Homo sapiens: one gene and its partners. The protein of the gene in region 2 interacts with the protein of the main gene of each other region in a pairwise test. Each region holds a gene or a part of one and is shown on either strand. Other genes may lie near its edges. The genes, in order: SH2D4A, PDE4DIP, RSPH1, TNIK, CHCHD3, PYGM and NEK2.

The links.
Region 1: the proteins of PDE4DIP (region 2) and SH2D4A interact in binary tests that used the Homo sapiens proteins (3 or more experiments, as listed by UniProt).
Region 3: the proteins of PDE4DIP (region 2) and RSPH1 interact in a two-hybrid assay, tested with the Homo sapiens proteins (one large-scale study listed by BioGRID and IntAct).
Region 4: the proteins of PDE4DIP (region 2) and TNIK interact in a two-hybrid assay, tested with the Homo sapiens proteins (2 studies listed by BioGRID and IntAct).
Region 5: the proteins of PDE4DIP (region 2) and CHCHD3 interact in binary tests that used the Homo sapiens proteins (3 or more experiments, as listed by UniProt).
Region 6: the proteins of PDE4DIP (region 2) and PYGM interact in a two-hybrid assay, tested with the Homo sapiens proteins (one large-scale study listed by BioGRID and IntAct).
Region 7: the proteins of PDE4DIP (region 2) and NEK2 interact in a two-hybrid assay, tested with the Homo sapiens proteins (one large-scale study listed by BioGRID and IntAct).

What each region holds. Positions count from the first base shown.
Region 1 is NC_000008.11:19,358,693-19,362,192, forward strand, and holds part of SH2D4A (SH2 domain-containing protein 4A), read left to right. Parts: intron 1-2,510; coding exon 2,511-2,622; intron 2,623-3,500. UniProt on the Homo sapiens protein: Inhibits estrogen-induced cell proliferation by competing with PLCG for binding to ESR1, blocking the effect of estrogen on PLCG and repressing estrogen-induced proliferation. May play a role in T-cell development and function.
Region 2 is NC_000001.11:148,850,928-148,854,427, reverse strand, and holds part of PDE4DIP (myomegalin), read right to left. Parts: intron 1-3,500. UniProt on the Homo sapiens protein: Functions as an anchor sequestering components of the cAMP-dependent pathway to Golgi and/or centrosomes.
Region 3 is NC_000021.9:42,479,225-42,482,724, reverse strand, and holds part of RSPH1 (radial spoke head 1 homolog), read left to right. Parts: intron 1-16; coding exon 17-88; intron 89-3,500.
Region 4 is NC_000003.12:171,061,906-171,065,405, reverse strand, and holds part of TNIK (TRAF2 and NCK-interacting protein kinase), read left to right. Parts: intron 1-1,441; coding exon 1,442-1,525; 3' UTR 1,526-3,500. UniProt on the Homo sapiens protein: Serine/threonine kinase that acts as an essential activator of the Wnt signaling pathway. Recruited to promoters of Wnt target genes and required to activate their expression. May act by phosphorylating TCF4/TCF7L2.
Region 5 is NC_000007.14:132,795,591-132,799,090, forward strand, and holds part of CHCHD3 (MICOS complex subunit MIC19), read right to left. Parts: intron 988-3,500; coding exon 852-987; intron 1-851. UniProt on the Homo sapiens protein: Component of the MICOS complex, a large protein complex of the mitochondrial inner membrane that plays crucial roles in the maintenance of crista junctions, inner membrane architecture, and formation of contact sites to the outer membrane.
Region 6 is NC_000011.10:64,749,975-64,753,474, forward strand, and holds part of PYGM (glycogen phosphorylase, muscle form), read right to left. Parts: intron 3,214-3,500; coding exon 3,099-3,213; intron 2,531-3,098; coding exon 2,429-2,530; intron 2,098-2,428; coding exon 1,950-2,097; intron 1,682-1,949; coding exon 1,623-1,681; intron 1,493-1,622; coding exon 1,351-1,492; intron 610-1,350; coding exon 402-609; intron 1-401. UniProt on the Homo sapiens protein: Allosteric enzyme that catalyzes the rate-limiting step in glycogen catabolism, the phosphorolytic cleavage of glycogen to produce glucose-1-phosphate, and plays a central role in maintaining cellular and organismal glucose homeostasis.
Region 7 is NC_000001.11:211,665,622-211,669,121, forward strand, and holds part of NEK2 (serine/threonine-protein kinase Nek2), read right to left. Parts: coding exon 3,492-3,500; intron 1,611-3,491; coding exon 1,485-1,610; coding exon of another isoform or gene 1,441-1,484; exon of another isoform or gene 796-1,440; intron 1-795. UniProt on the Homo sapiens protein: Protein kinase which is involved in the control of centrosome separation and bipolar spindle formation in mitotic cells and chromatin condensation in meiotic cells.

The DNA of each region.
Region 1 (3,500 bases), on a different chromosome or scaffold from region 2:
AAACAGAGGCATCCTCCTTTGGGGACACTTGTGAGGCTCTGATGAAGGAATTGGTGGGGAGGCATTCTAAGTGCTTCCATCAACAGGCTGGACAAGAGGCTTTCTGAACGGGCCCAGCGGCTTTCTATATGGGCCCAGCGTGCCCTTGTTTTCTGGTACTGTTAGCTGAACACATTTTCACAGCTCACACCACACATCTGGGTCTCCACACCTTCCACCCTGGGCATCTGGATTAGCATCCAGCCTCGGCCCCTCCGCCCCTCCACTCCAAGCCATCACCTGGATTTCCCCATGCCTGGCTGACAGTCCTGAGTCCTGGTCCAACATGCTTCCAGCAAAACACTGCTGAAAAGGAAATGATGGTCTTCTGAATAGAGAAAGTAAACCATTACAGATTTTGATAAAAGTAAAATTCTCTCAGAGACGCAGGACAAGTTCCTTACGTTTTCTAGCTTTCTTGAATAAATACGGTGGTCAGGGCCGTATATAGATGGGTAATAGCAGATCTCATCTGCTATTACTCTGTGAAACTCGTTAATTTTTCTTCTTTTCCACTGTGCATGTACATAATTACATGCAGATTAAAGGAGTAGATTTATTAAATATAGCTCTGTTAGACATTTGAGTAACATCAACCAAGTACTACATCTGTTATTATTAATATTTTTTCTTAGGTAGAATCATGTCATGTTCCAAATTTCTTGCTTATCCTCAGCAACAATATCCATGATGATCATAGCTTGATGTTTTCACTATATGTTTCCTAACCGTTTAAAAATAAACACGTATGCATGTGGAAGGATGAACAAAGCTCCACTTTGAAGCTTTTTCTGTTTAAGCTTAGAAATTGCTAGCAGCACATGTATCTATCTTGGGCTGGCAAACAGCTTCAATCAAAGGATGGCAAATTTTAACAGTCCTTTCAAACATCAAAGCTGTCCTTTGGATTTTCAAATGTTGGCAAACAAAAGGAGCTTAGCTCTAGGCAGGAAAACAGTGTAAGGAAAAAAAAATGAAAACAGTAAATGCACAGAAGTTTAGTTACATCTGCAGTGAAGCACAATTTATGAATGATGATTACTTGAACTGTGATTTATGACTGCCCAGAGCGATCAGAAACAAGTTTCACAATATTAATGTTTATACTTTACGTTGTGGTGACATAATAGCAAGGAAGTCTTTACATTTCTGTGGGAAAGCACAAAATTAAAAAGCTTGTCACTTGTGATAGAGAGGTGGGCACAGGCAGCCCTTTCTGGCCATTTCAGTTTGTTTTATTGCTTAGCTAACCAAGGCTTTTATTAGTCCACCAAACTGTAAATTCAGTCGTCTTGTGAGCACTCAGAAGGTTGTGTCCAAATAAGCAAAGTACTTTTCAGGTCTAAGTGATTTGGTTTGTTCATTTCTCTTTCGTTTAAAATGATTTCCGTTGAATGCTCTTAATGCCAGAAAACAGTACACTAAAAAATGGTTAAGGTGGTAAATTTTGTTATGTGGAATTTTACCCTAAGTTTTAAAAACCTAATTCTCCTTTTAAAGGAATATTTACATTTTGAAAGTATTTCTCCCTTCTCAAAAGATGCTTTTGAAAAATATTTTTCTGTTTTTTTTTTTTTTTGAAACAAAAAAATACATATTCTGGCAGGGTGTGGTGGCTCATGCCTGTAATCACAGCACTTTGGGAGGCTGAGGCAGTGGATCACTTGAGGTCAGAAGTTCGAGACCAGCCTGGCCAACATGGTGAAACTCCATCTCTTCAAAAAATACAAAAATTACCCAAGTGTGATGGCACTTGCCTGTAATCCCAGCTACTCAGGAGGCTGAGGCAGGAGAATCGCTTGAACCTGGGAGGCAGAGGTTACAGTGAGCCGAGATTATACCACTGTACTCCAGCCTGGGCGAAGGAGTGAGGCTCCATCTTAAAAAAATAATAATGATATATATTTCTTTTGAAACACTTAAAATCATGTAGTAAGTACCACATTTTGGGACACATGACTCGGGGGAGAGATTCAGCTGAGATTGCTCTGGGAATGTGCATTTCTTCTGTGGAGTCTGTCAGCTACTGTAAAGTAGGTTGATGCTAGTTCTATGTAATAGTGTGTTTACATCCTTCAGGGAGTCAGTTTGAAGCAGCTAAGTACTGTGTCTGAGGAAAAGGAATATTTTTTCTTACTATATGTTATACACTGTGCCAGGGACTTCTTAAGTTATCTAATCCTCAATATAACCCTAAGAAATATTTTTTTCTCATCTTTCTTATGGGGAAACAGCCCAAGAGAGGTTCATTTGTTGCTCCTGGAGTTACACACTAGCTAGCAATGGTCAGTCTTACTTCAGGTCTTACTGACTCCAAAGTCCACACTTGATCCTTCCTAGTGGGCCAGAGAGTTAGATAGAAGTCAGCTGTGCCGGGTACCCCGTCCTTCAGGAAACTGCTGGATTTGCTCACCAAGGTTCTTTTTTTGTTTTGTTTTGTTTTTGTTTTTTTTTGTTTTGTTTTTAAACAGAAGAAAGAATCTATGAAGAAAAAACAAGATGAAGAAATAAATCAAATAGAAGAAGAGAGAACGAAGCAGATTTGTAAGAGCTGGAAAGAAGACTCGGAATGGCAGGCATCTCGTGAGTACCCAGAGGTCTCCATAGCACCTTCCAGGCTCTCAGCTGATTCTCTCCCTTAATAATGTGATCAATCTAGAAAGCGCTTAATGTGGGTTGTTGAGAGATATGTTCACAGTAAGTTACCACTCAAATGTTATTACTAACTTATTACTCAAATGCTTACAGGCTACTTTTGAACAGCAGACTCGTTCTCCATTTATTTCTGTATCACCAAAATTATGATGTAATTTATCAAATAGCATGATATATAGCTATGGAAAATAGGTTTTGGAGAGTGTTTAATGATCTTAGACTGTTTATATCTCATTAGCTTGGGGAAGAAAAAACACCATGAAATAGAATGAAAAGCTTCGCTATTTAGAAATGTCTAAGTATCTGAAGGAAAAGAACTGGAAGGTTATAATAACATGTAAACATTAGTTTTCTTGGAAAGGTGAGATTCAAGATTATTTATTTGAATGTTTTTCTTGTAATTTAATATTGTGTTTTGGATTTTTTTTCCCCTAAATTTTTGATAGTGAATACATTTTAACTTTGTAATCAGAAGCACACAGGAATACCAGGCTGGATGTGTTAGCATCCCGCTCCTGCCTGTGACCCAGCCTTGACTCCTATTTGAGTGAGCAGAATGGGTGAGAAAACTCATAGGAGAAGAATAAGCCCATGCAACTGAAGGCAGAGGAGAGGATGCTCCAGAATGCTAGAAGAATTAGGTTTGTGAAAGAATTAGTGTTTCCATCTGACTCAGAGAAATCTGAACTGCTAGATCAACCTGAGGTGGCTTGAGGAAGACAGCAGGTATGGCTATATTTGCAGGATGTTGAGATCCTACATTGATCTGCAGTCCCATTACAACCAATGCCATTTAAATGACAACT
Region 2 (3,500 bases):
GGATTTTAAAATAAAATTGACTAAGGGTTACCAAGCCGGGAGATGGTTAAGGCAGTTAGAGATTCTAAAGCAGCGTTGAGAACACGATTCAAAGAGCTGACTCTGACGTCTAGGTTCAGTATGGAGGTGAATAAACAGCAGATGGCCTGGAAGATACAGAGAGTTGAGGAACTGGAATACATGACGCAGTAAACAACATTCAGAAAGAATGAGGAAGTGGGGGACTTGACCTGTGGTCAAGAAGTATAATTTCAGCATTAAGGATCCTAAGGGTGGAAAATCTGGAAGAAAGATGAGCTACAAAAGATGGCTGTGCTGATAGCATACTGAAGTGAATTCGAGTTAAGGCTATGTCAGGTCAAGGTATAACAGTGATGTATGTCCATGCCTAGTGACCCCTCTAGAATGTCAGTCTCTGGAAGGGAGGGTTTTTAGATCATTCACTATCATCTGTCCAGCATTAAAGAAGTCTAGATCATAGGAATTGGATGCGTATTTCTTTTTTTTTTCTTTTCCCGTAACTGAGGAAACAAGACACATATTTCTTAAACAATGATAAATACAATCTGAATGTATAATGGTGTCAAGTTTGATAACCTGTTGTATCCATTCTACAATAAGGAGACACCCACCAAACAGATATTCCCATCGGCCTTTTGGGGAATGTTCTCTGGAAAGCTCTTAATAGATGACCTTCTAAGTGCTAGAGGCAATGTTAGATGCTGAAGACTTATAGACAAAAACGTTTCATTCTGCCGATAAACTTGGAGTATGGAAAATATCAAGTTAACCAACTAGCTACATGCTACAACAGAGTAGGCAGAGCGTGTTCTGGCTACACCCAGATCTAGGTTCTAAAAATAATTCCTAAAGGAGGTACTTCTGAATCTAACCTCTGAAGGGTATACAAATTTATCCCAGCAAAGGCAAGGCTAGATGTGTAGGTGGGAACAACTGGTATATTAAGGCCCACTCATAATAATTTTAGCTCAGGGTAAATTAAGTCGCAATGACTCTCCAACCAGCTCCCCGGGTCTGCTGGCAATAATGCTGCTCCTGTGGTGCCAATAACCTGAAAATCTCCAAGTAATACAAGAAAGTTATACACAGAAAACCTCCAAGTGATACACAGAAAAACCTAAAACCAACTCAATTCCAAACTTTACATGTTGTCATTTGGTAGACACAAATGTGAACTTCTTCCTGCAATAAAAACCTATGTTGACTTAGTTTAAAAGCAGCATATAAAGGATGTTGCCCATAATCCCCTAACCAAACAAGGCATCTATTTTCTCTTTTCTCTGTCCTTGTAATAGACATCCTAATAGGTATACATAGTTTTGATGTAATTTACATCTATCTTTTACTTTCTTATGTTAAAATTTTCTGTTTATTATCATTTCAGGAAACGTTTCAGGATAGTAATAGAGATTAACAGCAACAGTGAAGCATTTTACCCTAGAGAAGGGTAAAAGTTGGAAATGTTGCTATTGATTCACCTAGGTTATGCCACTTTAATGTCAGTGTGCCTCAGTTTCCCCCTTTACAATACAGGGATTCAGGTCTTGAAAAAGATATTTAAATTGAATGCAATATCTTTCTTATGGGACTATAACTTTAAGTAATTTGCAATGTACTTTCAAGAACTGGAAATGTTGACATAGTTATTCTACTTCTGAACATCTCTCATTCAAAAAATAATGCTGTGGAAGAAGATGCTTTATGCACCTAGACATTTATCAAGTATTATTTATAATAGTTAAAAATTGGAAGTCTACATCCTTTGGGTTAGGCGTAATGATTTAAAAGACACTGTAAATCCACAGCATGTTATTCTACATTATGAATGATAATATACCACATTATGAAGTGGAAAATAAATTCATTCTTAAATTGTGTGAAATGCTAGAAATTATTCAATTTTCTTTGTGAGTCAATGCTTTCTAGTTTTTTTTTTTTTTTTTTTTTTTTTTTTTTTTCCGACAAAGTCTTGCTCTGTCACCCAGGCTGGAGTGCAGTGGTGTGATCTCGGCTCACTGCAACCTCCACTTCCTGGGTTCAAGCAATTCTCATTCCTCGGTCTCCCGATTAGCTGGGATTACAGGCACCCCCCACCATGCCCACTAATTTTTGTATCTTTAGTAGAGATGGGGTTTCAACATGTTGGCCAGGCTGGTCTCGAACTCCTGACCTCAAGTGATCCTCCTGCCTTGGCCTCCCAAAGTGCTGGGATTACAGGCGAGAGCCACTGTGCCTGGCCAGTGAATGCTTTCTATATGTCAGAAGTTATTGCTTCTTTCCACCCTTTCCACCATGACCATGATAAGAAGACACTAGTTGCAAGTTACCTCTTCCCTCACTGGCCTTGGAAAAGACAAGAAAGAAAGACGTTTCTGTGGAATGTAACAAGCAGAAAAGGACTGAAGATAATGAGACAGATTAAGGAAAGATGAATCACAGGCTGTGAAAGTGCTATGAAAATAAAACAGTATTATTATACAATTTATTATAAATAGTCTATGACTAATTTAGCACTTTAGCCATAAGCGTTCAGAAAAAAGAAATTCAGATCATGCTTGTCTTGCTGGCCACAGAACTCAGAAAATGCTCTGAGGCAGAGGAAAACAAGTCCTCAGTGCATTTGAGTGTTTTAAAATAGAATCACATAGAGCCACCTTGGGTCAATATGACATCTCTTGTATTCTGGACTTTCTTCTAACTTTAAATGCTATTTGAATTTTTGCCAGAGACAGCTTGTGGAATGTTCTGAGCCCAGTTTGGAATTTTATTTATAAAATGGGGTAGATTTCAATAGAAGTAGTGTCCTGGGGCATCCACTGAATGGATGGATGCTCCACTTAGCCTTGAAAATATGATCCCTCAGCCACAGTCAGGCGAGCCTCCCAGGATGGGGACGGCACCATGAGGTGTTACTTATCCTTTCTGAGACAAAAACAACCCCTTCCCAGTCTTTAGGTATTTTAAACATAGTCTTAGCATGTAGCTGAAAAAATGGGGGTTGGGGGAGTCAGGTCCAGACTGATCTAGTGTGTGGAAAATAAGCAAGTAGGAGTGAAAGCATTGATTCTGGCAAATTCCCCAAGCCGAAATCCAAGTATAGGCCCATTTAAAAGTAGACTGGAGTTGCCAAGGCAGAATTTCCTTCTTAAAATTCAGATAATTAGTTGCTAGCAGTGCTGAATATTAAACAGGAAATTCAACTTCCAAAGATGTTTCAATAATAGAATTCTGAAAACAAGCATTTTCCTAATATGAAGTGTTACATGCAAAGCACCAGCACCATAATAAGTAAAGGTACTGGAATTAACTAGGCCTTCATACAACACATACTAGTTGTGTGAATGCCAGCAAATCATTTAACCACTTTAACCTCAGTGGCCATATATCTCTGGTTGTAACTATGTCTTTGTAAACAGGACTCTCTACTAACTCACCATAAATTCAGAGAAAAATAAATGTCCCTGATTCCTCTAGGCTAA
Region 3 (3,500 bases), on a different chromosome or scaffold from region 2:
TTCTCTTTGCTCGTAGCCTGTTGGCCCTGGAAAGTATGTATTTGATGTTGGGTGTGAACAACATGGTGAATATCGTTTAACAGATATGGTAAGTTGCGGAGCATGTAGGGTTTTGTTACATTAACAGGGAAGTAGCTGCTCAAAAATATTGATCCTGCAAGGTTGGAGGTGATTCGCCTAAAAGTTATGCCAACTCTTAGGCACTTTCACATTTTCATTTTCCTTATCTGCATGTGTTAGTACAGAACTAAATTGCCAGAAGCAAACAATATCATTTCCCATTTATTGCAGAACTCTAGACTTTGTTGATAGATACCGTTTTTGTTGATAGAAACTAATCCTGGCAGGGCACAATGGCTCACGCCTGTAATCCCAGCACTTTGGGAGGCCGAAGCGGTGGATTGCTTTAGGTCAGGAGTTTGAGACCAGACTGGCCAACGTGATGAATCCCTGTCTCCGCTAAAAATACAAAAATTAGCTGGGCATGGTGGCGCATGCCTGTAATCCCAGCTACTCAGGAGGCTGAGGCAGGAGAATCGCTTAAACCTGGGCGGCGGAGTTTGCAGTGAGCCAAGATCACGCCACTGCACTCCAGCCTGGGCGACAGAGTGAGACTCTGTCTCAAAAACAAACAAACAAACAACCAATAAATAAAAAACTAATCCTGAGTGGGAGGGTTCTAGACAGTGTTAGGTCCTGCAAGTGAAAACTGAATCTGTAACTGGTGTTGCCACAGTTTGTCCAGTGACTGTTAGCTTGTCCGTTGTGCAGCATGCTCCTCTGAACGTGCCGTTGGTAAGTCTTTCTCTTGTTTTTTCCTTTCCAATATCTAACATTAATATTAACACTACATTGACATTCCCTGGTTAATAGTAAAGCTAGTCAGCTAATATTGCCGTTATAAGGCATCGAGATGCGTATGTGTGTTGAGGTGGGAATATATGTGTTCCTATTCCTCTCATTATTAATGTCTGATCAATCCCTCTAGATAATTAGCAATTCAGCAACATTTCCTGACCCTGGTACTGGTTTTGATCCTTTTGACTTATTTGTTTAGATGAGGTCATTCTCACTGTAAGAAGTTTTGAGTTTTAAGGAGGAGTGTGGAATCACGCTTTTGTTTGTTTTTTGGTCTCTGAAGTTGTTGAGGTGTCCCCTCCTAGTGAGTTAAGAATATATTATCGTACACAAACTCTCCCATGTCTGCATACTTTCTTTCTGAAGAAAGCCGGGGAACGGCTTGTTTGGGTCTACCATCACATCAATGCCCTTTCAACCTGGGTTAGTCCTTTTTGTGCTGCTATAAAGGAATTCCTGAAGCTGGGTAGATTATAAAGAAGAGAGGTTTATTTGGTTCACAGTTCTGCAGGCTGTACAAGAAGCATGGCACCCGCAACTGCCTGGCCTCTGGTGAGGTCTCAGGAAGCTTCCACTCATGATGGAAGGTGAAGGGGAGCTGGTACCATAGCTCAAAAGAGGAGGAAAAGAGGGGAGGAGGTGCCAGGTATATATATATATATTTTTAACAACCAGTTCTTGTGTGAACTAATAGAGCAAGAACTCACTCATCACCACAGGGAAGGCACCAAACCATTCATGAGGGATCTGCCCCCGTGACCCAAACACCTCCCACCAGGCCCCACCTCCAACCCCGGGGGTCACATTTCAACATGCGATTTGAAGGGGACAAACACCCAAACTATGTCACAACCTGAGCCAAGTCACCTCGTTTTGTTTTTTTGTTGCTGTGTCCCTCGTCAAGCCCTTGGCATCACCCAGAGGCCCTGCTTTAAACCGACTCCTCGTCACCTTGGGCTCAGGTGTGAGGCTGTGGAAAGCTATCCTTGGTCACAGGAGGTAGAAGCCACACTGTGGGGAGCTTGGAAGGCTGCGGGAGATCCTGTGCATGAGGGCCTGTCCCGCACCTGCTCTGTGCCGCCCACTGCTGTCTCTACCTAATGCTCCATCCTTTCACCCCAAGGGCCCTGGCCTTGAATCCTAAGTCTAAACTCATCACTAATTTTTCAATTCAATGCTCTTCAATGCTCTCCAGACAGGTTTTTTTTTTTTTTTTTTTTTTTTTTGAGATGGAGTTTCGCTCTTGTTGCCCAGGCTGGAGTGCAATGGCGTGATCTCGGCTCAACGCAAACTCCACCTCCCGGGTTCAAGCGATTCTCCTGTCTCAGCCTCCCGAGTAGCTGGGATTACAGGCATGTGCCACCACGCCCAGCTAATTTTGTATTTTTAGTAGAGACGGGGTTTCTCCATATTGGTCAGGCTGGTCTCAAACTTTCGACCTCAGATGATCCACTGCCTCAGCCTCCCAAAGTGGTGGGACTATAGGCGTAAGCCACTGCGCCCAGCCCTCCAGACAGTTTTTTAACTTTTCTCATTTTTCTTCCTAGAGTTTGTTAGATTCTAAAACCAAAGGGAGTCTTTGAATCTTTATCCCTTAACCTCCCATGATCAAGTGACTGTCCGTGCTCCGTTGCTGCTTCCCAAGTGGCCACAGTCTGGACATCCCCGGGGCTCTCGGCCCTGACCTCAGCCACCCTCTTTTCCTGATTCCCGCTCCTGTGATATTCTACTTTCTGCACATCACTCTGGCCATGGTTATTTAGTTTCCCCAAACAGCCCATGGTTGCTCATGGTCCACCTTCTTGGCTGACCAGAATCCTGTGTGGCCTCACAGTGATCTGTCTTCCTTGCCTCTTCTCCTGCTTTGCTCCAGCTAAAAGGAACCACTGGCTAGGGGCAGGTCCCTAGAAAACCAGAAAATGAAATGGCCAAAATGCTTGATTTTGTTGCTAAGTAAGAGGCCCTACCTCCTCTGAGCACGAATTCTTCATGGACCGCAGGGTGCTCTAGTCTGGGTGGAAGGCAGCTTCCTGTAAGTCACCTGCATCTAACAAAACGTAGAGGAATTTGACATACTGTCCTCCCCCGAGGTTCCACTTCATTTATGTGTGTGTGTGTGTGTGTGTGTGTGTGTGTGTGTAACCTCCTACACACATAGTCAGAAGCCTAAGAAAGACAGTCGGCTTTAGGATTTGATTGTGACAGGGAGGTATTTAGTATTTTGCTGGGATTTCCATGGGGTTGGACACCTCTCATCTGTTCCCTGAAGGAACCTATTGGTTAAATTGATATCTTGTCAGCACTGGTAATAACTGTTTAGGGTTACTGGTGATTGAGCAAGTTTTTACATTTGTGTAGTGATAAAAATAAAGCCCATCTTATTAAGTGCTTTGCAGCTTTAGACTCTACTGGAAAAAGTTCCTAGAAGTCAGTATTTCAGGATGATGAGAAGAAGGTAGAAGGAGCATCAGTAACATCTAAGAGAGAATTACTGATATAAGCCCCAAGTCCTGTTGCTGTTTAGGAAAAACCACCCATGAAATAATGCAGCAACAACCTGAGGGCTTTGTGGAAGGCCTCCCACTGTGCTGTGGGGATGGATTAGGATGGTGGTGGAACAGAAGGGCCTCCGTGTTCTCTCT
Region 4 (3,500 bases), on a different chromosome or scaffold from region 2:
TGTATATCCCTTTGTCCACCCCAGTTCCCCAAAGGTCAGGTTGGTCTTAGTCCAAACCTGGTGATGTGGGCCTAAACTATATTCAACCCTGGCCCACTACTCTGACCTGATGTGGTCTGGGTGGACAGTAGCTGCAGGTGGCAAAGATGGTTCCAGCCATTTAGATTTCCCAGAAAACAAACATAACCTAGTAAAACTCCAGCTCCCACCCAGTCTCTAAGAATCAAAAAACCAGGAGTGATCTGGGTATGGATACCCACATTCCGATTGAAAACCTACCCCAGCAGGGCTGTTCCAAGCCATGCCACACCCTTAGGAGTAGGCTGGGGCCACACCAGTTGTCTGCAACCCAAGGTTTACAGCCAGGGGCACACAACTTGGAGGGAAGAGCAGCCCTTTCTTTTCTTCATTGTGGTTTTCCATAGGCCCTCTCTGTCCTTCTCCGTTTTGATTCATTGACCCTAAGAGTAGCATTACTTTCATATGCAGCATTAGGTGAATGTCAAGCATTTCCAGAGACCTCCCTAAGAAGTTGTTGTTAGCATTCTTCTGAAGAAGCTGTAGAAATGAAGTAGCAGAGACTTTAGACTAGTGACAAAAGCAACTACCTAACAAAAGTTAGGTATTGACTGACTGAAGGGCTAGGCCATAGCCCAAAATATTACTTTCCTGGGGCAGTGGTTCTTTAACATTAAACATTCAGCTCAAGCAAGCAGTAACCCAAATTTTTCTCACGTTTGTCAGTTGTTTGATAAAATGACTTAACAGACTCAGACCTAATGGACTGTGGTTCTCCTCATTAATGCTATGATCTCATTTGCCCTGGGATATGCCACCATCAGCAGAGAAACCATGCGTTAACTCTTGAAATGCCAAAATGAGTAGGCATTAAATACCTTGCCCTATCTGACCACACTATTTAATGTTTTTATCTTAAATTTAAAAAACTGAAATCTGAAACTGTATGATAGTCAGTAGGCCTAAAACTCCCCCTTGACTTTGAGAATTTGAAGGGATTCCCTTCCATCCTGAAGTCTACTTTCTTGTCATTTAAGGGTGAGAGAAGGGAAGCTTCTGTGCCTTTCTAGAAATTAACAAAGAACCTGTTGGGTCCTAGACCAGAAATCCAGCACGTTATCCTAGCATGAAACTCCCTTTTAAAAAGTGAACACCCAAAGAGATGTTACAAATGAAGATATAGCCCCTTCAGCATCTCTGGAGACCAATACCACAATAAGGAATAATAACAACCTAGGAATAAAGGCAGGAGTTTTTACATAGGATGCACGATATCCAAAGGGACTTTATAAACACAAGCCATTGAGTCTTAAGACCTGACACATGGCAAGGATAGGACATGTGAGAGAAAATGGATGGACGGTTGAAGAAAAGAGGGGAAAAGACCATGCAGTTGAACTAACTTCTTTTTAATTTCAAACAGGTATTTTTTGCATCCGTGCGATCTGGAGGAAGTAGCCAAGTGTTTTTCATGACCCTCAACAGAAATTCCATGATGAACTGGTAACAGAAGAGCACTTGGCACTTATCTTCATGGCGTTATTTCTAATTTAAAAGAACATAACTCATGTGGACTTATGCCAGTCTAGAGGCAGAATCAGAAGGCTTGGTTGAACATATCGCTTTCCCTTTTTCCTCTCCCTCCGCCCCTCCCAGTACAGTCCATCTTTCAATGTTGCAGCCTGGTTGAGAAGGAGAGAAAAAGGTGGCAGGAATTTCCAGGAGATCCCCAAGAATGCTGCCTTGTCTGTGGACAAAGATGGACCATGTGCCCTTCGGAATTAGGGATAGAAACAAATATTGTGTGCTCTTAACGATTAAGCTGTGTTATGGTGGGTTTTCAGGTTTTTACCTTTTTTCTTTACCCCTTTACTCTGCAAGAATGGGGAAAGAATGCATACTGCGAAAATGAGTCTTTTAAATTCTGTCTGCCTACTAGTTTTAAGTATATGGTATGTTGTAAAATTTCCAATGATGAGAGACAGCACAATAAATGTACCTTATCTCCTTAGGCTGAAGGCCATAACTACATAGTGGAGTAATTTAAGAACTCTCTTGCCTTCACCAACCCAAAAGGTTGCTTTTTGATAGCAACTGGCTAATGAATTTTTAAAAAGAGAAGAAAAATACTAGTTTTCCCCTCTTTTGGGAAATAGATTTTAAATGGCTAAACTACTAGCCTTAAAACTACTAGTCTAATAAAATCAACTACCACTTTTGTGAATCTGACAGGCCACATTTTTATATGGCCCTTTACAGAATGGAGTGTGTTGAACAGGATACTAACGCCATTGAGTTGAGCTGGCCTAGCGATGGAGGGACACTCTAACACAACTTTCCCTCAGCTATTATGCAACAGATCAGGGAAAAAGATGGGATGACAGATGGGGTCAGACAGAAAGAGCTTCTGGGAAACAAGCTTACATAGTCTTTTTTAAAATGCACAAAGCCTCCCAGCTAAGAGGTCACTTGGTTTGGGCTTCATTAGGACTGAGACTTTGTTGAGTTCTTTCTGGGACTTGGAGAGTGGATGATATTCAGGCTCTGAACATTCCCAGCGCTCTCCCGAGGGTGCCACTTTCTCAAGATGAAAACTGTGACTGAAAAAATTAATAATAAATGTTTCTGAGCTGCCTGTGTTCTCCCTGTGTGGGTGAGAGAAGGGACTAGACTCCTAAGCCTGCCTCAGATACAAGAGGCATCATTGGCTCCAATTTTAGAGAACTTGAAAGCAAGGCTTTGGACAAAATTTTGAGACCCTAATCACTTTACCTTCCTCCAAATTACCCAACATACGGTAAACAACATTTGTGCAGAAGTATGTATGTATTTAGTTCAGGTTGACTTGTGTCCTTATAAACTCTTACTCAAATGATTTGAACTTTTATGCGACTGGGATTTTTTTTTTCCAAAGCTACAAGCATGGCCGCCTGTGGTATCGAGGTGTTGCAAACAATATCTGTGTTGCGCTTCCTGTTTTAACCTACCTCGTTTTGTTTGTTTTTGTTTCACTGTTCATCACAGCAGTGTTATCTCCAGGAGACATATAGAGAGCTCAACCGGCAATCTCAGGTGCATTTAACATTTTTAAAACGAAACAGTAGTTGACCAAATTTTTCTTCTTAAAAAATTGGAAGTGGGGGGAATCCAATGACAAAAACTAATGTGGCTTGTTTCTGGAGAAAATAATTACTGTAAATGGAACAACAACAACAAAAAAAACTACGATCTTACTGACTTTGCCTAAATACACAAGCAGCTGATGTACTATTAATGAGAACGAAATACACATTAGGAAAATGGAGCCATTTCAATCTAGTGGTTTGGGCAAGATGGGGAAGAGAAGGGGAAACATTCTAGTTTCTGGATTACATTATTATGCCCCTCCTGAAAAGGTGGTTGTCATTTGCATTTATTTAAAGCAGGTAATATGCAGGAATGTAACTGAGGATTATCTTCAGGCAATCAGCAAGATATCCTCC
Region 5 (3,500 bases), on a different chromosome or scaffold from region 2:
TATAACTACATCAAATTAGACTGCAGAAAGGCATGCTGTGTAACTTAAACACTAGATTTAGTTGGGTTAGAAGGTCAAATCTATGGAGTTTGTCAGCAGAAGGAATCAACGTTTCCAACAATTTCTGCCTCTCAGAACAACCATATCCAACTGTTAAATTGGTTAAATGATAGGCAATTATGTGACCTGCCAGAATTGATAATTTGCTTCAGGGTTTATCATTAGCTTTCTAAAGTACATAAATTAGAGAAAATGCACGTCCTGTGAACATCATATTGTTCTGATATGAAGGGTCAAGAGAAGAATATGGCTATGGTCTATAAAAGCAGTGGAAATTCTTTTTAAAATGCTATCTCTGGTTTCCCTTTCCCTGTCCAACTAAGTGAACTCTATCAACTGGTGGAAGCGTTGGACAGTGACTGAACGGTGGTGTTTTGTTTTTTTTTTAACCTGGCCCTCTGCCTACCTACGGCTTATGGGCCCAAAGGTGCCAGCTCTTAATCTGTATCCTCTTCGCTAGCTCTAAATATTGGCCTAAAAGTATGAGGAATGACCTTGGGAACATTATTATTAGAAGACAAAAGTTCAGGGCAAGTGGAAAAAAGTATAATTGTAGTAGAATCCTTTTTTCTGCAAGTAAATGAGTTGTACATAAGGAAGATATGGGCTCTTTGACAATGATCGGACACAAGTTATGCCCTAATCAACTCATTACAGTAATTCTTGATGATGATGACTAGGGCTTAGAAAGCTTTTTCACACACAGTGGCCCATTTAGTCCTTACCACTGCCCCAGGTCATCCAGTTTTCAATTTGCCCAGTGCCCCCAGTGGCCTGGCTGGCACACCTACCTGTTTGGCATGATTGACACAGTGCATATACTGGGTGGCCAGAGCGGAGCATTTGAGGGTCTGGTGGGTGTTCTCACGGTAACACTGAAGAATTTTGGCCTGCAGATCAGCACAGACTGGATGAGACTCATATCGCCTGAAAACAAACACAGGGACCGCTGAGACCAATGGTCTTCATTCAGAATAAAAATCAAGGTTAAAGAACACATAAAACGCACAGTAAGACACAGATGTTGCAAATGTAGAAAAAGGTTTAAGAGAAAGAATTTTCCTTAAACTTCAAAGATAGCTAAATTTTTCCCATGATAAAAATGACAAAGGGTAAATAAATTCTAAGAAATTAGTTCCACTAATTGACACTACTGTGAGTTAGTCTGGACAATATAACCATCCCTTCCAAACCGAAACCATATCAACATGCCAGAAACTTGGAAGCCCTAAGTTCTCTCTTCCATTCCCATATCCACTTGGTCACAAAGTTGGAGATCCCTACGGCCTGGTCCTCCTGCTCCACACTCACTGTCGTTACATTGCTTCCAAGTGAGCCACATCCTGAATTCAAGAAACAACCTCCCAGCTGGTCTCTCAGCTTTGACACCCTCTACTCCTGCCTGCACACACCTTCCAGAGGGTTCTTTCCCATAGGAAATCGAAGATGGTCTCTTTTCCCAGCACTTTCTACACAAAATACAAGGCCAGCTGGCTGGTCCTTCTTGACCAGGTTCCTGCCTACTCTGTGGCCTTCACCCCCCAACCCTGCACACAGCTGAAGCCTGGACAAACCCAATTCAGGGTTTCGTTCTTACACTTCTCTTCAAGTCTAAGCTCATGCTGCTCTTGCTTCTGGAAATGCTCTACGCCCAAACTCCCACCTATGCCTCTATATCTGGAAAAAACCTACTCATCCTTTGATACTTCACTCAAGTGTCAGCTTTCATTAGCTCTCCACCCCCCAACCCTGGTACAGTCTATCATTCCCTTTATGGTGACCCCATTGGTCCCGTATTCACTTTTCTTGCCATGCATGTGACACTGACTACACCATAGTCTAATACAATTTAGCAACCTACATTTACTAGAATGTAAATTCCAAGGACTGTGACTTATTTTCTTTGTTACCTCAGCTATTAGACATCGGAACCCTACAGAAGTCATGTAATACATTTACTGAATGAATACAAATCGGTGCAAAGAAAACATTTTAAAGTCCCCTGGGTTAAAATTTTGCTACTTATACTTACAAATCTCAGATTTTAGTCAGATTGCTTCTGTGAATATGTGAGACCAAATGTAAATGTTTCCAAAAACCTTATAATATATGCTTGAAAAATGATAATGAACCAAATGAGTTATACGAATGAAGGTAAAATATTCTGATTAATACGGCAGGGAAGTTTGGACTGCAAGGATTAAATACATACAGAGAAAAAAAGCACAATATTACTACTTTTAATCTTGAAATTCGTGTTTTTTCAAATTAGTCTTAATACAAGAAGCTTCCAGTCTTATCACTTCTATTTTTGAAATTTAAATTTGTTATTTCCATAGTAATCTTGAAATCACATTATTTTAAATTTAATGGGTTCAAACAAAACCCCTAGAGAACACAGGGGGAATATTTCTCATCAATAAGGAAACGCCTGGGTGATGATTTGTCTCATTATTTTTATCCAGTACACTAAGCTAATATATATTTTACTAGAATAGAAATGCAAAGCATGTTGGTGGTTCCCTGACTTCCTACTATCCTCTAAAGAACACAGACATACAGAGAAAAAAAAATGTTTCAACAATTTTTCTATAACATCACTTTTACTTTTTCATTCATTACCTTACTGCTTTGTCAAATACCTAAGAACAGAATTAAATAGAATCCCAGGAGTTTCCATGCTTTAAGATTTCAAACTTCAGATGTCTGTGAATTTTTCTGGACACAGATTTCCCTAATCCTTTACCACGAACATCAGGATTTAAAAGGAATCAGCCGTGCTTCAAAGAGTATAGGCACAGATACCACTAAGTGACTAATTATAGCAAGACCTGCATCTAGATAAATATCGAATAAAATATGATTAAGCATCAGATCAGCTGAACCTAGCAAATACATGACTAATGACTAATAGCTCATAGGAAAGCAAGGTTACATTCTATCCTAGTGTTGACAACTGATCGTGTCTCCAATGTGTCTCAGATTTAAAAGCAGGGGGAAGGAGGTGAGGAGGGAAGGCTAGAACAACCCTGACCAGATATGCAGCCCTTCCTCATTAACATACGGGAAAAGACTGTAAAAATGAGCATCCACACACTGCATGTCATAAAGAAGACAGTTTATTTTTTCCTTTAAAAAGTCTACTCACGATGGGATAATTCACCTCATGTTATGGACTCCTTAGAAAGAGGTAGTTTAAGTTGTAGATAAGCATGTATCCTGGGTTGAGCTATTAGTCATGCAAGTTAAAGTCCATGCGTTATTTATGATTTGAAATGTGTCAAAATATACTTTTATCACCACAAATCAATACTACTCACTTCCAGGGCTCTTGATTTCCTGTTTGGTGATCTGTTCTGTGTGTGTGTGTGTGTGTGTGTGTGTGTGTGTGTGTGTGTGTGCAGTCATCCTCTGAAATTCTTTTTGTACACACTTCAATC
Region 6 (3,500 bases), on a different chromosome or scaffold from region 2:
GTAGAGATGGGGTTTCACCGTGTTAGCCAGGATGGTCTGGATCTCTTGACCTTGTGATCCGCCCGCCTTGGCCTCCCAAAGTGCTGGGATTACAGGTGTGAGCCACCGCACCCGGCGTAGAGCAAGGATTTTTTTACTTCCATTTCCCAAACAATATTATCTCTTAGGGTTGATATAATATTCTCTTCCTTTTCCTTCAGTTCTATATTACTTCTTTCTTTTCCAATTTCATTAACCTTATTTGCTGTAAGCGCCCTCTAAAGTTTCCCAGAATCCTGCTGGCCATGACCAAGACCTTGCTGGGCCTGGACCAGTCTTTCCAGACGTGCCGCTTGCTCCCAGCACCACTCTCCAGCAGCCACACCTGGGTGTCTTTTGCCCGTGAACCCTGACCCCCATACCCTCTTTGGTCAAGCTTATCCACATCCTCCACCCGCATGCCAAAGATGAAGAAGTTTTCCTCTCCCGCCTCTTCTGCCATCTCCACATTGGCCCCGTCCATGGTGCCAATGGTCAGAGCCCCGTTGAGCATGAACTTCATGTTGCCGGTGCCTGAGGCTTCAGTGCCCGCAGTGGAGATCTGCTCAGAGAGGTCTGCAGCTGGGATCACTGTGGGGTGGCAGCAGGGGGACAAGTCAACTCAGGGAAGACCCTCACACCAGCTGGGGACTCTCAGATTAGGCTGGCCCCAGGCATAGCTGGACTCAGAGTCGCCCCACCCCAAACTCCCAGTCTTCACCAGCCAAGCCTCCCTCTCACACCGCACCCCCACTGCCCTCTACCTCTTGTTGATTCTTGACCATCTAGGTCCAACCTGGATTTCCCCACCTCTGTTGCAGATTTGAAGGTAATTTCACCCTGTACTGCCTGAAATTCCACCATTAGAGGGCATCCTCATGGGGTTTTTGCTTTGTTTTGTTTCCTCTTGTTTTTTGAGACGGAGTTTTGCTTTTGTTGCCCAGGCTGAAGTGCAATGGCGTGATCTCGGCTCACTGCAACCTCCGCCTCCCAGGTTCAAGTGATTCTCCTGCTTCAGCCTCCCAAGTAGCTGGGATTATAGGCACCTGCCATCACGCCCAGCTAATTTTTGTATTTTTAGTAGAGACGGGGTTTCACCATGTTGGCCAGGCTGGTCTCGAACTCCTGACCTCAGGTGATCCACCCACCTTGGCCTCCCAAAGTGCTGGGATTACAGGCATGGGCCACTGCGCCTGGCCTCCTCATGGTTTAAGCATTGCCCTCTCCAGATTCTTCTTTCAAGTACAAGTATCCCAGGAAGAGACGACTGATACCTCTTCCTGAGACTGAACTAGTCAGAGCCTCCCTAGGGTCCCTGTTGGCAGCACCCACCTTTCTCGGCCAGTGAGACTCGGTAGTTCTCCAGGAAGATGACACGGAGGCGGTCACCCACTGCCGGGTCATGGTTGACCACATCCCCGATGGCTGTGACGAGTCTGATGATCATCTTGGCCATGTGGTACCCAGGTGCAGCCTGAGGGGACAAAGTCTGGGGTCAGCTCTACTGCCTGGCCCCCCACCCCCTATCCTGCAACTCAGCTGGGCTGACCTCAACCTGGATATATCAAAGGACGGGAGCCCAGGGCTGGAGCCTGGCTTCTCACCTTCCCTCCAATCATCACAGTCCGAGGCACAAAAAACTTATTGGGCTCCCTCTTGATGCCTGTGGAGAAACGAGAGGGATCCAGTGGGCCTACCTTTCCCTCTGGGTAGTAGCTCCTGACAGAGGCTGGGCTGGGACACCGTAGGCCTGACTCGAACAATCACTTGCTATGCTCTCTTAGCCTCAGTTTGCCCATCTGTGAAATGGGGATAATTCCATGTCCCAAGAGTAGTCCCAAGTCCAAAGGAGATGTTGGTTGGGCAATATGTACTATGCCGCAGGAACACGGGGGAGCACTGAGAGACAGGGTAGAGTGGCTGCCACTCACGGTTGTACAGGGTGATGACATGGAGGCAGTTGAGGAGCTGTCGTTTATATTCGTGAATCCGCTTCACCTGGATGTCGAAGAGTGAGTTGGGGTTGATGTGGACTTTGTATTCCCTCTCTAGGTAGGCAGCAAACTTCAACTTGTTTTCCTGGAGGCAGAGACGGGGAAGGGCTCACCAACAGGCCACAGCCTCAGGAAATCCTACAGTCCACACTCCAGTCAGCCCCAGGAGGATGGCTACCAGGAGGCTCACTGGCTACTTCTGTCCACTCCTGTACCAGGGCAGACATTGCTAATCAATGTCAGCACTGTTCATGTGAGGTCAGATGATGCCTTCCCACCACAGACTCCAGGCAACTTCCACCAACGGCCTGGGCTGGCAGGAGAGATGAGCTCTATTTGCCACGCCTGACCCAGACATCTGGCCCCTCCAGCGCTCTCCACACAGCACAGCTGTCCCACATTGCATCTCTCCCCACCTGCTTCACTTTGGCCACATCCCGAATGAAAGCTTCATCATCCACAAAGGAGAGCAGTTTGCGCAGCTGGTCCAGGTCAGAGATGAAGTCCTCCCCGATGCGCTATGGGAAGACGGCTCTCAGCCAAGCCCATCCCCATGTCCTCCCTCCTCCCAACACAGAAGGGGCCATTTCCAGGTCAGCCAAGCCCCCTTCACCCAGCAGGCTGCTCTGGGGGCCCTCCCAGCCCCTCCTCCTCCAGCCGCCCAGATGGGGCACGGGGCATCCATGCACCTTCCTCCCCTCCCGTCCTTGAGCTCTGATGGCTGACCCCACCTGACCCCAGCAGGCCTTCCTGGCTTCCTGGCCTTTTCCTAACGCCAGCATGACCTTGCGCCTTCCCTACCAGATATCTGCCCCCTTCCAGGCTCACTTCAGATGTGACCCATGGATGACTCCCTCTGCTGTGTTCACCTCCACAGCCAGGGCCTCCATTAGCACACAGAGCACCCTCATGCAATTAAGATGGTGTCCCTCCTCCAGGTGGATGCGAGGCTTGGGGAACACAGTGCAGGAGGGATTTCAGCCTTCAGCTGGGAGCCCTGATGCAGTGAACCACCTACACGACCATACCCAGCTGATCCCTGCAGGGACCCATGTTGACTCTACTGGCCCTACGGTGGCCTCTCACCTCAGCAATGACCTCTGCCAGCCCGGGGTTACACAGAACCAGCCAGCGCCGAGGGGTGATGCCGTTGGTCTTATTCTGGAACTTATGAGGCTCCAGCTCATAGAAGTCTTTGAAGCTGCAGGATGAGGTTGGACGAGGGTCACCACTCACCCCTGTACAATGAAGGCCTCTGCCCTGGGGCCCCTACCCTGGTGTCTTGCTGAAAGGGGCCTGGGGCAGGGAATGCAGACCTGGGGAAGGTTGGGGGTGCTGTGTGTAAGAGGAGGTCATCTCAGGACAGGGCGGCACTGGAAGGGGCTGCTGTGCTTGTAAGAATGACGCCACCTGTGAAAGGCGCCAGGGCCCAGAGACCAGAGAGTGGTCGGTGAAGGGCGGGGCTTCTGTGTGACAGAGGCGTGGAGT
Region 7 (3,500 bases), about 63 Mb from region 2:
GACAGTGTGGAATCTATGAAAAGCCAGAATAAATATTTTTATAATATTGAAATGGTAGACTGCAATATTGGGAAAAAAGAAGGTATTTTAACAGAGATGAAGCCAAAGTTTCATATAATCCTTGTTTCATTTACTTCTATCAGTAGTTTCATTTCTTTCCATCACTTATTCACTACAAAGTTATTGTGATCATCAATCTAACTTAAGTAGGGTTTTTTGTCTGTTCCATTTACAAAATGCTGCCAATGCTCACTAAATTGATCACACTACATCTCAATTTATTAAAGATGGGAATAATAGCTTTCATATATGCTGTCCTACATGGAATAAGGGAGTTATAAAAACTCTAAATTTTATTGAAAATTCAGATGCTCGATTTTTGAAACCAACAACTTTTAACAGTTAGTTTGTGTCATAAATCAAGCAAAAAGATGTTTCACAGTTTGCATTTTACATAATCTTAAAGAGTCGATTAAATTAGATTGAGGGTTTCTATAAAATGGAGAATGTTAGACAATGGTTCACTGGTATATACGATAACCACATCTCAGTGCGGCAGAGTGAAGGGACAATGCCACACAAAGGCAGGGCCCTGAGAAAGCTGAATATCTATATACCAGACTTTAAATAAAGAAGGAAATGCAGAGAACATATGTAGATATTAAACAATCAAATTTCAACAAATATGTCTTTCAACTTGAAAGGGTGTTAGCAAAGATCCAAACGTGACAGCCTATTCTGCAGGTGGCTTATCATGCCTTTTAAGCCATGCTTTCTATGAAAAATGAGGCATGGCAATATTAAAATGTTTATTTTTACTTGAAATGCAGTTTATCTCTCTGAAATCTGAAACATACAATAGTTTTGTAAATGCCCTAATTTTTAAAAATAAGTATCGGCTGGGCACGGTGTCTCATGCCTGTAATCCCAGCACATTGGGAGGCCGAGGCAGGCGGATCACGAGGTCAGGAAATCGAGACCATCCTGGCTAACACGGTGAAACCCCGTCTCTACTAAAAATACAAAAATTAGCCGGGCTTGGTGGCGGGTGTCTGTAGTCCCAGCTACTTGGGAGGCTGAGGCAGAAGAATGGCGTGAACCCGGGAGGCAGAGCTTGCAGTGAGCCGAGATTGTGCCACTGCACTCCAGCCTGGGCTACAGAGTGAGACTCCATCTCAAAAAAAATAAAAAAATAAATAATGATAATAAAAATAAGTATCAATTACTAAACATGTAGTTTGATAAGGTAAAGAAAATCAAACATGAAATTCTATGACTCATTGCCTCAGGTCTATGAACCCAGGAAATAAATCATTGCTATAACAGAATTTTGTTTCCATTGAAATGCATATATTCAATGAAATCCATCTTAAAATTTGAGATTTGTAAATGAAAAGGGCTACCTAAGCCACTTTGGGAGCAACACTGGTGCACATTTCTTCATTTGTAGCACCAGCTTCTGTTGACCAAGTTGATTCTCATACCTGGATTACTTGCCAGAGACAGGAACTTCCGTTCCTTTAGCAAGCTGTAGTTCTTCAACAGATTTTCTGCTCTAGCCAGTTTGTCCTCTGCTAGTCTCTCACGAACACAAAGCTCCTGTTCTTTCTCTTTAAAAAGAGAATGGACAAAGAAAAAAAAATTAACAACTGACCTTGACTAAAAAACAATTTACATTTGGCAATCTTATCACTACTAGCATGCCTGATACTGATAAGCAATGTTTGGGGAAAGGATTCTCACTATGCCTCAGTCAACCTGATTATGTTAGTTTTTAATTGAGTGTTTTAGTAGGCTGTATGTTATCTTAGATTTTCTTGAAAGGACTTGTTTAAACAAATACAAAGTTAGCTTCAACCTTTGGTCATCTTTTGTGGGAGTAACTCATTTGGGAAAACAAAAAACTAAAGCTATCTCTGCTCTTCACTGAAGATAAGCAACAGCTAATTTTCAGGGCATGATCTGGCCTCACAGTACAAAAATCTCCTTCTTCTGGTTGAATGACCACACCCAAACAAAAGAAAAAAAACACAATTCAGTTAGGTGGTAGTTCATAGGATTAGTATTAATAACAAATGTTACTATTTATTCATGGCCCCAAATTCAGAAAGTATTCAGATTTCAGTTGCTATATGAAATTATGGCTGGTCACAGTGGCTCACGCCTGTAATCCCAACACTTTGGGAGGCCGAGGCAGGTGGATCACCTGATGTCAGGAGTTCAAGACCAGCCAGGTCAACATGGCAAAACCCCATCTCTACTAAAAAATCAAAAATTAGCCAGGCATGGTGGCAGGCGCCTGTAATCCCAGCTACTCAGGAGGCTGAGGCAGGAGAATTGCTTGAACCCGGGAGGTAGAGGTTGCAATGAACCAAGATGGTGCCACTGCACTTCAGCCTGGGCAACAAGAGTGAAATTCCATCTCAAAAAAAAAAAAGAAAAGAAATTATGAAACACTGGGGAAAGTTATAAGAAAAAGCTTTCTTATTTTTTACAGAGGTTTCCAAGTAAGTATAGGTTGTACCTATACAGTAAGCATATCTCACAGGACTATACAATATTTCATTATTTAAAGCCTGGATTGGGCATAAAGCTGCAGAAGTAAAATCAGGTGAGTCATGAGGGTGACAGGTCACAAATACGACCCCATCTCTCGTCTCCTGATGTTAAAATGAAGAACCTCACTCTGTAGCTACCTTGCATAACCCTAAATGCTTGCGAGTAGCTCTCATCTTGGTGGAGTAGACACACTTTCAATATCAAAACTAAATTAGCATCTAATCAGTTAATACTCATAAGTCAATGTTAATACCCACCAGAGTATTATTTATAGACTTAAAATATCTTGTATCTAGATTCTCTATTGAACTGCCTGAACAGACCAGGTGTGGTAGGTCACACCTATAATCCCAGCACTTTGGGAGGTAAGATGGGAGGATCACTTGAGCTCAGGAGTTCAAGACCAGCCTGGGTAATATAGTGAGACCCCATCTCATTTTCAAAAATAAAAAGTTAAAAAAAAAGAAAAGAATTGCCTGAACATATCTCATCTACATACTGTAGGGTTTTAGACCTGGAATTCTGTTGGAGTGGCCATTTCAAAAGACAAAAGTCATGGTTTTTTATTATGGAAAGCAGCAATTTTAAGACCTTCCTTTACAGTGGGAAAACATTAGGGTATTCACAGTAGAGACGAAAAAGAAAAAAGTAACTCTAGAGTAAAATACAAGGCTATCGTATTAGGGCCATCACAGTTAAGGCCCAATAATATATAACTAGCAACTGATCTCAGAGAAAGATGTCCAACATGAAGGTGCCAGCAAGCCTGATTATTAAAAAGTCTAAAATACATATTTTGGTTTCTCAAGTATTTTTCAAAAGCTTCTAATAAGATCTGTATGTATAAAATATTCTGCTCAAAGAGATATTCAGACACATCAAAATAACCCACTTGGTAGTTCTCCTTTGCTTTGACCCCCATTCAGACTTACGCTCCAATC